Linked DNA regions of Homo sapiens: region 1 is reported to be linked to region 2. Evidence: microRNA targets listed by miRTarBase, many of them from high-throughput screens and not tested one by one. Region 2 holds a microRNA gene; the other region holds the end of a gene's coding sequence.
Evidence for each region. Region 2 holds the annotated microRNA hsa-miR-7107-3p (UGGUCUGUUCAUUCUCUCUUUUUGGCC, at 1,863-1,889, opposite strand). A microRNA usually pairs through its seed, bases 2 to 8, with sites in the 3' UTR of a target mRNA and lowers its output. Matches are read on the target gene's strand: a 7mer-m8 pairs with bases 2 to 8, a 7mer-A1 pairs with bases 2 to 7 and ends in A, and an 8mer does both.

Region 1 (4,515 bases), not on the chromosome of region 2:
TGGCTGTTCAGTTCCTAGGTCCCCTGAGACCCAGTCCCATCAGGGCTGGACTTGGCAGGCAGGAATCCCCTGGCATTCACTCAAGCTGGCAACAAAGGAGAAGCTGGCATGAAACTTAAATTCCACCTTGGCTCTCAGCCCTAAATCCACCGTGCCTGTCTGGGAGTGTCATGGCATGCGTCTTGGAGCCAGAGAACAAAAGATGGCAAGTGCTGCAGGCCCAGACAGGCAAGGACCACAGCCCATATATCCTGCACCACTGTGCTGCCTTCCAACAATTTTGTCTTCAAGAACAGCACCTAGACACGCATTAGGAGGGAAAATTACACTTCCACCAGCACAGGCATGTTCGCCCCTTCCCAGCTGGTAATTGAGTTTCGTCGTCAGAGCTATCACCTAGATCAGGTAAGAAAATGGGTGAAAAGTACGCCAAGTGCCATTACTGGTCAATTTTACTTAAAACAGTTTTCTCAAACCTGGAGAAAGCAAACCATGCACCACCTTGGCTCCTCAACTAGGCTTCCTAAACTACCAAAGAGGCTCTTTAAGCACCTCAACCTTGGGGGAAAACAAAGAAAACAAATCCTCTTCTGCTCTGAACCTGGCCTAGGAGCCCTGCTCCTCTGGACCAGCCCCTGACCTGCTTTTGGGTGGGCTACTACTCTCCTACCCAGTGTAAGGTATGTAAGATGAAGGAGCGTGGGAGAGAGAGAGGGCCCAGGCCTAGTTTCTGCTATTCCATCTGGACCATTCTATTATAGGACTCAAAGACAGATACAGAGAGAACTTTGGAATAAGGCCTGGGATAAAATTTTGGTGTTATCACTAAAGAGCTGCTACTTAACCTTCTTTTGTTCTGTTTCATCACCTGTAAAATTGGGTACACCATCTACCTCCATGGGATGCTGGGTTATGGGATAATATACTTAACATACCTTAAAAAAAAAAAAAAGCAAGATTCCCTTTGGCATGCATATAGAATGGGGGAGAATACAAATTAGTTTGGCCCCAGCAACCTGAACCTTCTTCTTCTAGCATAACTCTGGGATCATGACCTCAGAAAAACTTTGCATATACCTTTCCATAGACAAATGTAGTAAACACAACTCAAACCCAAGGCTGAAATGCTATTGGCCGTGACTAATCTGAGGTATGCCTTGGAGAACTGTCTCCACAGTTCAGGCCTTTCTAGACCAGTCCTAAAAAATCTCAAGCACACAAAGTATATTCTTAAATATGGTTTAATACTCTTCTCCATTTCTGTACATCACAACACCAAGATTTTGCTGCTTAGTATCTCTCTGCAGAGGCTATAGAGAATGCAAAGGCTACGGTTTTCACCCCCTCTTATATGTGTTTGTATGTGTAAGTGTAATACATATCAATATATATTGATACACACATCAATATATAATGCAATATATATCACCGAAGAGAACACATTGATTAAAGAAATACAAAAATTTGGCATCATTTCCAAACTTAAATAGTAAAAATAAAAACTACAAAAGGAGCTGCATACCCTAAATGTATCATGTGAAACAACAAGCATATTCAAAAATGTAAATTTACATCCAATTTCTCTGGTCTTGTCATATCACATCAGACCCATTTACAATGGCAAAACCCTAAGGTACTGCTGTGAAGAGAGCATGTTTGCTCGCTCTTGGGTGTTCTGCAAACAAATAGCAGAGCCCAAAGCAAAAAAGCCTGTTCCGGTGAAGTCTCCCACGTTGGTGAACACCAAATAATGGACTCTTCTCACAGGGGGTTGAGACATCAGGTTACACATTGACAGACAGTATTTGGACCTCAGAGTACAGTGTGAGAACCAGAAACTTTACATTTAAGACATACTCCCTTCATTCAAGTGAAACAGGATTATTGGAACGATAGGCAGGTCTGTAACCTGGGAACAAGGAGCTGGTTCAGACCAATAAAGCTACGAGTGACTGAATCAAGTCAGTAAAGAACAGCAGTCAGGCACTAAAGTGTTAAAAGTACCCAATTTGAAAACCAAATGCACCCCACTACCCTAGTCAGTGTGGAGGTGATACCAATTGACTTTTAAAACCTTTGGTCCTTCAAAGTCCATTTGGTATACTTTTTTCCATCGCTACCACTGGGCACGTACTATACACTTTGTTCAACTGTCACCACCCTGGGCACGCCATGACCTTGCATATCAGCTGGGTTCAAGTCTGACTTACAGCCCAGCTGTGAAGCATAAGCTTCAGGGTTTCAGGCCAACTTTTGGATCCAACATGGTCTTAAATCCATGGTGCCAGAAGCTGTGTCCCATCCCTTCCCACCCGCCCCTAATTTCTCATGTGAGAAGTGCTTGTAAGTCCCACATTTGAAACAGATGCTCCAACCCCACCAGGAGGTCAGGAGTTTATAATTACATGCAGTCATACATGTCTGTCGTTCCTGTGAAAAACCTTGCAGTTCATTTTAATAAATCAAAACATTCACATAATCTCATGCCATCCAACACAAGGAAAACACATCCACCTCCCTTTTAACAAGGATTGACCCAAGCAAAATAAAATCCTCTTTAAATTTCTTCGCTTCCACTTAAATTGCATGTTTTATTTCTCCCAATCCCAGCAATAGCACAGAAGCCCCATCATATCCATCCCAAACCGGTTTCGAGTAGGTTAAGGTTATAGGGACCCTTGTCAGAACATTGATACAAAGGGCTCCCAAACGCCGGGCACAAATGTGTCTGCAAACAGATGGAAGTAAACAGTGCACTGGCCCAAATGCTTCATGAGTCAGTTTGATTTTGCAATGCAATTTGCATCCTTGAAACTGCCAGTCTGGAGGGGGACGGGGTAGCGTGAGGGAGTGAAGTTGAAAGTGCCTCCTATTAGCTCACCCTTTCAACATTAAACAGAGACCAAGAGAGAAATGGTTCCAACATTTCACCACATATATTTCTTCTTACGCAGTCTAAGCTGAGAATGCCATGTAAATGGGTCACTGCGAAATGCAGCAATTTAATTTTTCTCCAATCAAAATAAGAAACAAACCAGTATGATCTCACTTCTATTAACTTTTGAAGGTTTACAGCAGTTAAAGTATTTTTGCTTCTATGTATGAAGGTTAAAAAAATCATTTTTTTTCATAAAATACAAGAGCAACCAATTTCACCATCCAGTAAAAGTAAAAACTGGGATTCTTTTTTAAATTAGTCCAAAGTGGCGTTTAGGAACTTAGTTGTAGGCTGCTGCGCTGACACCATGACAAACCAAAGTGTAGGGCTGGGTCTGGTTTTGTTTCGGTTTTCTTTTCAATATCCAATGCTCATGGATTAAGTTCTGGAAATGTTCCAATTGTAAGGCAGGGATCTGTTTGGATTCCACCATGGGTATGCTCCTTGGGTTGGATGCTGGAGGGTGAGGCACGTTTTGCCGGACCCATGTCGACTACCTAGTAGTCATCAAGGTCAAAAAATTCATCGTCTCCTCCTTGGTATTCCATTCCCTGGAAATCTACTCGGTACCGCAAGATACCTGGGGAAACAAACCAAAAGGTAAATTACCTGTGTTCATGGGATGGGCATGTGTGTAGGTGGCTGGTAAGGGAATAAGGGAAGCCCTATTCTCTTGCAGAATTGCAGAAAGCAAAGAGGTAATAATAAACATGGGTCCAAATTAGGAACCTGCACCTGCTGCGTCAATCACCTATCCCAGCAGATAATAAGCACCTCACCGGAAGCAGGGCTAGGGCTAGCCAGGAGGGACCTTGACCTGAGACCCTGGTTTTAAGTTTGGTTTGCTGATTTGCTACTCACCTCCAATTCCACCAAATCCTTTCACAAACTGAGACCCTTCTTGTGATTTATCTGTGACAATTTCCAACGTAGCTCCAAATTTTTTATAGTTGTTAGCAAACCATTCCAACAGGGGCATGCTCTCGATAAGCTCATGTTCCTGTCCGGTCTACAGGGATGACCATGAGATACAAAAATGGGGGATTAGGATATATGAAGGCTAATTAGTCCCTCTCACAGCCCCTTGCCCACCTATCACTCTCATCCTCCCATTTATAGGCATGTCTGTGTGTAAAGCTCTGTAAGTCATCTCTGGTTTTGATAACCTAATGGATATCAGCAGAGAAATTCGGATTATTTCAAACAACACTTCTCCTCAGGCTCTACCCTCAGCTATGAAATACCAACACAAAAACTCAGTGGGTATTCAGCTTATGATTCCTACTGTTGACTCTAGAAGTCAGGCTGTTGTAGTGTCTCTAAGCAGCACCCATTCAATGGCTCAGAAGAGACATTCCAGGACTGCTTTTGGGAGTGGCCTCGTAGAGAACAAAGCTCTCCAAACCAGAATTTGAGGAAGCTATCATTTAAACCTATCTCATACGGGAGGGTCATACTTTCAACTGTTGTGATGCACTTAGAGCAAACCAGAGAAGCCACTGCAGTGGAAGAGCTGATCAAGTGAAGAAAGCAGCACAGGTTTCACAGTGCAGGAGAGGCATTATGTAAATTACATT
Region 2 (4,000 bases):
CAGCTCCCGGGGGGTGCCGTTGAGCCCCTTGCTGAAGCGGTGGGGACGCTCGCAGATGCCCGGGGGCCGCTTGGGCTCCTCGCCCTCGCTCTCAGGCTCCGACTTGATGGGCTGCTGGTTCTCGTTGGCCAGGCTGTTCTCCGTCCTCTGGATCTCGTGGTTGAGCTCCTTGCTCAGCTCCCTGCTCAGCTCCTTGTTGGGAAGCCGCCGCTTCCGGCGCATCTTCACCTTCTTCTTCTCCTCCGGGCCCTCGGCCCCTTCGGTGCTGGGTCCCGCGGTGGGGGAGCTGGAGCGGGAGTGGTCGCTCTCCCTGGTCTTGGGGGGCGCCTCGGGCAGTTCGTCCTCGGGTTCCTGCTTGAAGCGCCGGAGGGGCTTGTTGGCCAGCGCCATGCGGTCCTCGGCGTTCTTCCAGGACCGCCGCTGAGGGCGAGAGCGGAGACGCGTCAGCCTCTGGGGCTCAGGGCTGCGCCCGCCCAAGGCCTCCCGCCCCCCTGCCACGGGACTGTGGCCCAGGGAGCTGCGGTGCAGCTCTAACCGCTCAGGCCTGGGGCACAGGAGGGAGGGGAAGATGGTACCTTTTTCCTGAAAAGCTTATCTTCTTTGCCAGGTTTGAGCTGTCACGAAAAAGAAAGGACGCAGAGCTTGCTCCCCGGGCTCGTGGGATTTGGTCTCCTCGACACCCCACCCCACCACGAGTCCACAGTCTCCAGAGGAGGGGCTGGAGGGAGGCCTTCCCCACAAATGCCATCTCCACGTCTGACCGACAGACGGGCGAGCCCTGCCTGCAGCTTTCAAGGAAGAAGCTGGAAGTAGGAGTACAGTTGAACTGTTCCCACCCAACTGACCTCCCACCCCACAGACCTGGAGATGTGCAGCCGCCCATTCAAATCATCCTCGGCTCTGGGAGCCAGTTCTGGAGCACAGCCCTGTGGGAATCCCCGGCCCAGCAGGAATGGCTAGAGCTGGGAGAGACTCCTGGCGCCACCTTGTGGCTGGTGACAGCACGGCCCGTGGGTGGAGCAGGGCCACCAGGCTCCTCAGAGGTTCCCTGGACTCACAGCTTCCATCCCAACCAACAGAGGCTCTAGGCACAGACAGCTTCCCAGGCCCCAAGCCAGAACCACGAGCCAGAGATCTGGGGCCGAGACCTGGGAAGCCTCAGGAGAGGCAGCAGTGGGGTGGAGGACCAGCGGGGTGGGGTGGGGGACAGCCCAGGACTCGCCAGTCCCCGGGGCCTCAGGAGGGCGTGCGTCGTGGGAGCACCTGCTGCTGGAAGTAAGTGAGACTGGATCTCCACCAGGGGCTGAGGCTGCTGCCTAGAGGGGGCCTCGGCGAGAGGTGAGAGGAGGAACCGGGGGACGTTTGAAGCGATGAGGCCTAAAGGGGGGTGGAGTGGGAAGAGGAGTGACTCGCTGGTTTTCCCCTCCTTTCTTTGGGGCAGGGCTCTCAGGACTTAGGTGACCTGCTCAGGGCAGCAAGAGGCCGGGATTATCCCAAGCTCTACCTGCTGCCCACCCCCTGCCCCATCCCTCCAACCCAGCACCCGGGACCAGCCAGACCAACCCCTTTGCCTCCCAGCCCCTCCTGGTCCGTACCCGCTTGCGTCCACTCAGCTCCTGGGGCTTCTCGTATTTCCGCTTCTTCCTCAGGTGCACGTCGTCAGACTTTCTGCGCAGAAGGCCGTCCGGCGGCACCTTCTTCGAGTGCTCATCCGACCTGCGCCGGGGCGCCTCCTCACACTCACTCCTCCGCTTGGCAGGTTCCTGCCCTTCCTTGTTGTCCCGGTTCATCTTCTGCTCCTTGAGCAGGGAGCCGGGCAGGTTGGAGGCGTACTTAAAGCCAGGGCCACGCTTTTGCTTGTAGGCCAAAAAGAGAGAATGAACAGACCAACTGTATACCTTTGGACTTGCCCTTCCTCCTCCCCAGGCCGACGGCAACCCACCTGCCTGAAACTCCTGGGACAGGCTGGTCCCGGCCAGGCCCAGGCCCGCCCCTCTCCCGACTGACCCTGGGACTTGGAGCCCGGCACTCACTTTCCCGGTCTTGCCGGCGTGGTTACACTTCGGACACTCCCAGCAGTTTGGAAGCTCGTCGTTGACCACACCCTCTGACTCCTTAATCTGCGGGGAACACCAGGACTCAGAAGAGGGACGGGCGGAGAAGATGGCCCACGGGCACAAGGCTCTGTGACGCCACGTCTTCCAGAAGCAGCAGCACCCCCTCCCCAACGTCACATCTATCCCGTTTCCAGGCAAAAGAAAACACAGCTGCAGAGGCTGGCAGAGACGGGCAGCTGTGGATCCAGGCCAGGGTTCAGAGGCTGAGCCCCTTTGCTTCTCTGGGACCCTGGGCAAGACACTCCGTCTCTGTGGGCTGGTGCCCTCGGCCATAAAAGTTAGTGTGCCCATCTCACTGGGGGGGTATGACCCAGGTAAAGCCATGAGCTCAGCGCCTGGCATGCAGAAAGGACTCTGCAGAGGACTCTACTGGGTGCTGGGGGAAGGAGTGTGGTGTGGGGCCTTGTTCTCCCAGAAGCCTGGAGCCACCTGGAGGCGCTTCCTCTGGCCCAGCTACAAACAAGCAGCCTGTGTTTGCCATCTGCTGAGGCTCTGGAAACCCTCTCTGGTTCTGACATCCTGGGAGGTGGGGGTGTGTTTATTCCTTTGATGACACTGGGTCTCTGAGGTACTCCAGGCCCTCCTTGCCCCGGGCTTATCCCTTGACACACAGGATCACCCAGACTCAGGGGTCCTCCAGGAATTCACTGCACGACCTGCATCCCACCATCTCACCAGCATCTCCAGCAACCCTACCTGCCCCAGAGCGTCAGCACCACCTGTCCCCACTGGGCCACTCACCTTAAGGCATCCAGGGTGGATGATTTCATTGCAGATGGAGCACTCCATGAGCATGAGGTTAAACTTGCCTTCCTCCTCTTCCACCGTGTCTTCCTTCCCCGCCTCGCCACACACAAGGCACACGGCGGTGTGGGGCAGCACTGGCTGAGGAGCCAGGGAGAACAAGACAAGTCATCAGGGGTGGGGAGCACGGACCCCCAGGGGGGCCAGTTCAAGGGCAATGAGCTGCTCCCCTTGGGCCTGCCAGGAGACCCCCGGAAAGTGGCCCAGGCACATTCGCTCACTCATTCATTGAAATACGTATCAGGCTACTACCTCCACATGCCAGATACTACTCTTAATTGCTGGGGATACAGCAAGGAACAAGACAGCTCAAAATCTCTGCCATCCAGAGCTTACATTTTAGTGGAGGGAGGCAGACAAAATGGACAGAGCATGTTAGAGACAGAGACATGGGGAAAAATTAGAGGGCTGGAGTGAGGGGCAGAAGGGGGGCTGATTTTAAATATGGAGGTCAGGGAAGGCCTCACATTCAGAAAAGCCCCAAAGGAGCAGGGGCGTGAGCGCAGCCCAGATCCATGCGGATGAGATGAAGCTGCATCTCACCAGTGGGTATTCAAGGCACAGACCATGGACTGCGGGCTCCCAAGACCTTTACAGAAAGGTTAGGAGGTCAGAACTGTCTTCAGAATAACAGACGTTATTTGCCTTTTGCACAGTATTGATATTTGTACTGGCGGGTGAAACTCCTGGCCCCTCAGCACCAGGCAAGGCAAGGCCCCCAGCTCACCAGCAGCCATGGGGTGACTCATGCCATACGCTTATTAAAAAGATCACCAGGCCGGGCGCGGTGGCTCACGCCTGTAATCCCAGCACTTTGGGAGGCCAAGGCGGGCGGATCACAAGGTCAGGAGATCGAGACCATCCCGGCTACCACGGTGAAACCCCGTCTCTACTAAAAATACAAAAAGAAATTAGCCGGGCGTGGTGGCGGGCGCCTGTAGTCCCAGCTACTCGGGAGACTGAGGCAGGAGAATGGCGTGAACCCGGAAGACAGAGGTTGCAGTGAGCCGAGACCATGCCACTGCACTCCAGCCTGGGCGACAGAGCGAGACTCCGTCAAAAAAAAGATCACCAGTTTC

Region 1: the mRNA of ETF1 is a reported target of hsa-miR-7107-3p. Seed matches in the 3' UTR shown: 7mer-m8 at 1,900-1,906.

The regions. Positions count from the first base shown.
Region 1 is chr5:138,504,870-138,509,384 of GRCh38, forward strand. It overlaps ETF1 (eukaryotic translation termination factor 1), which reads right to left. Exons shown (of 11, transcript NM_004730.4): 10 at 3,800-3,947; 11 at 1,226-3,518. The coding sequence ends at 3,436. Among named protein-coding and RNA genes, the nearest start is that of ETF1, 36 kb to the right of the region's middle.
Region 2 is chr12:121,442,417-121,446,416 of GRCh38, forward strand. It overlaps MIR7107 (microRNA 7107), which reads right to left and starts at 1,936; the gene lies at 1,857-1,936. KDM2B (lysine demethylase 2B) reads right to left here. Exons shown (of 23, transcript NM_032590.5): 14 at 2,859-3,002; 15 at 2,034-2,120; 16 at 1,596-1,856; 17 at 1,264-1,377; 18 at 576-614; 19 at 1-420.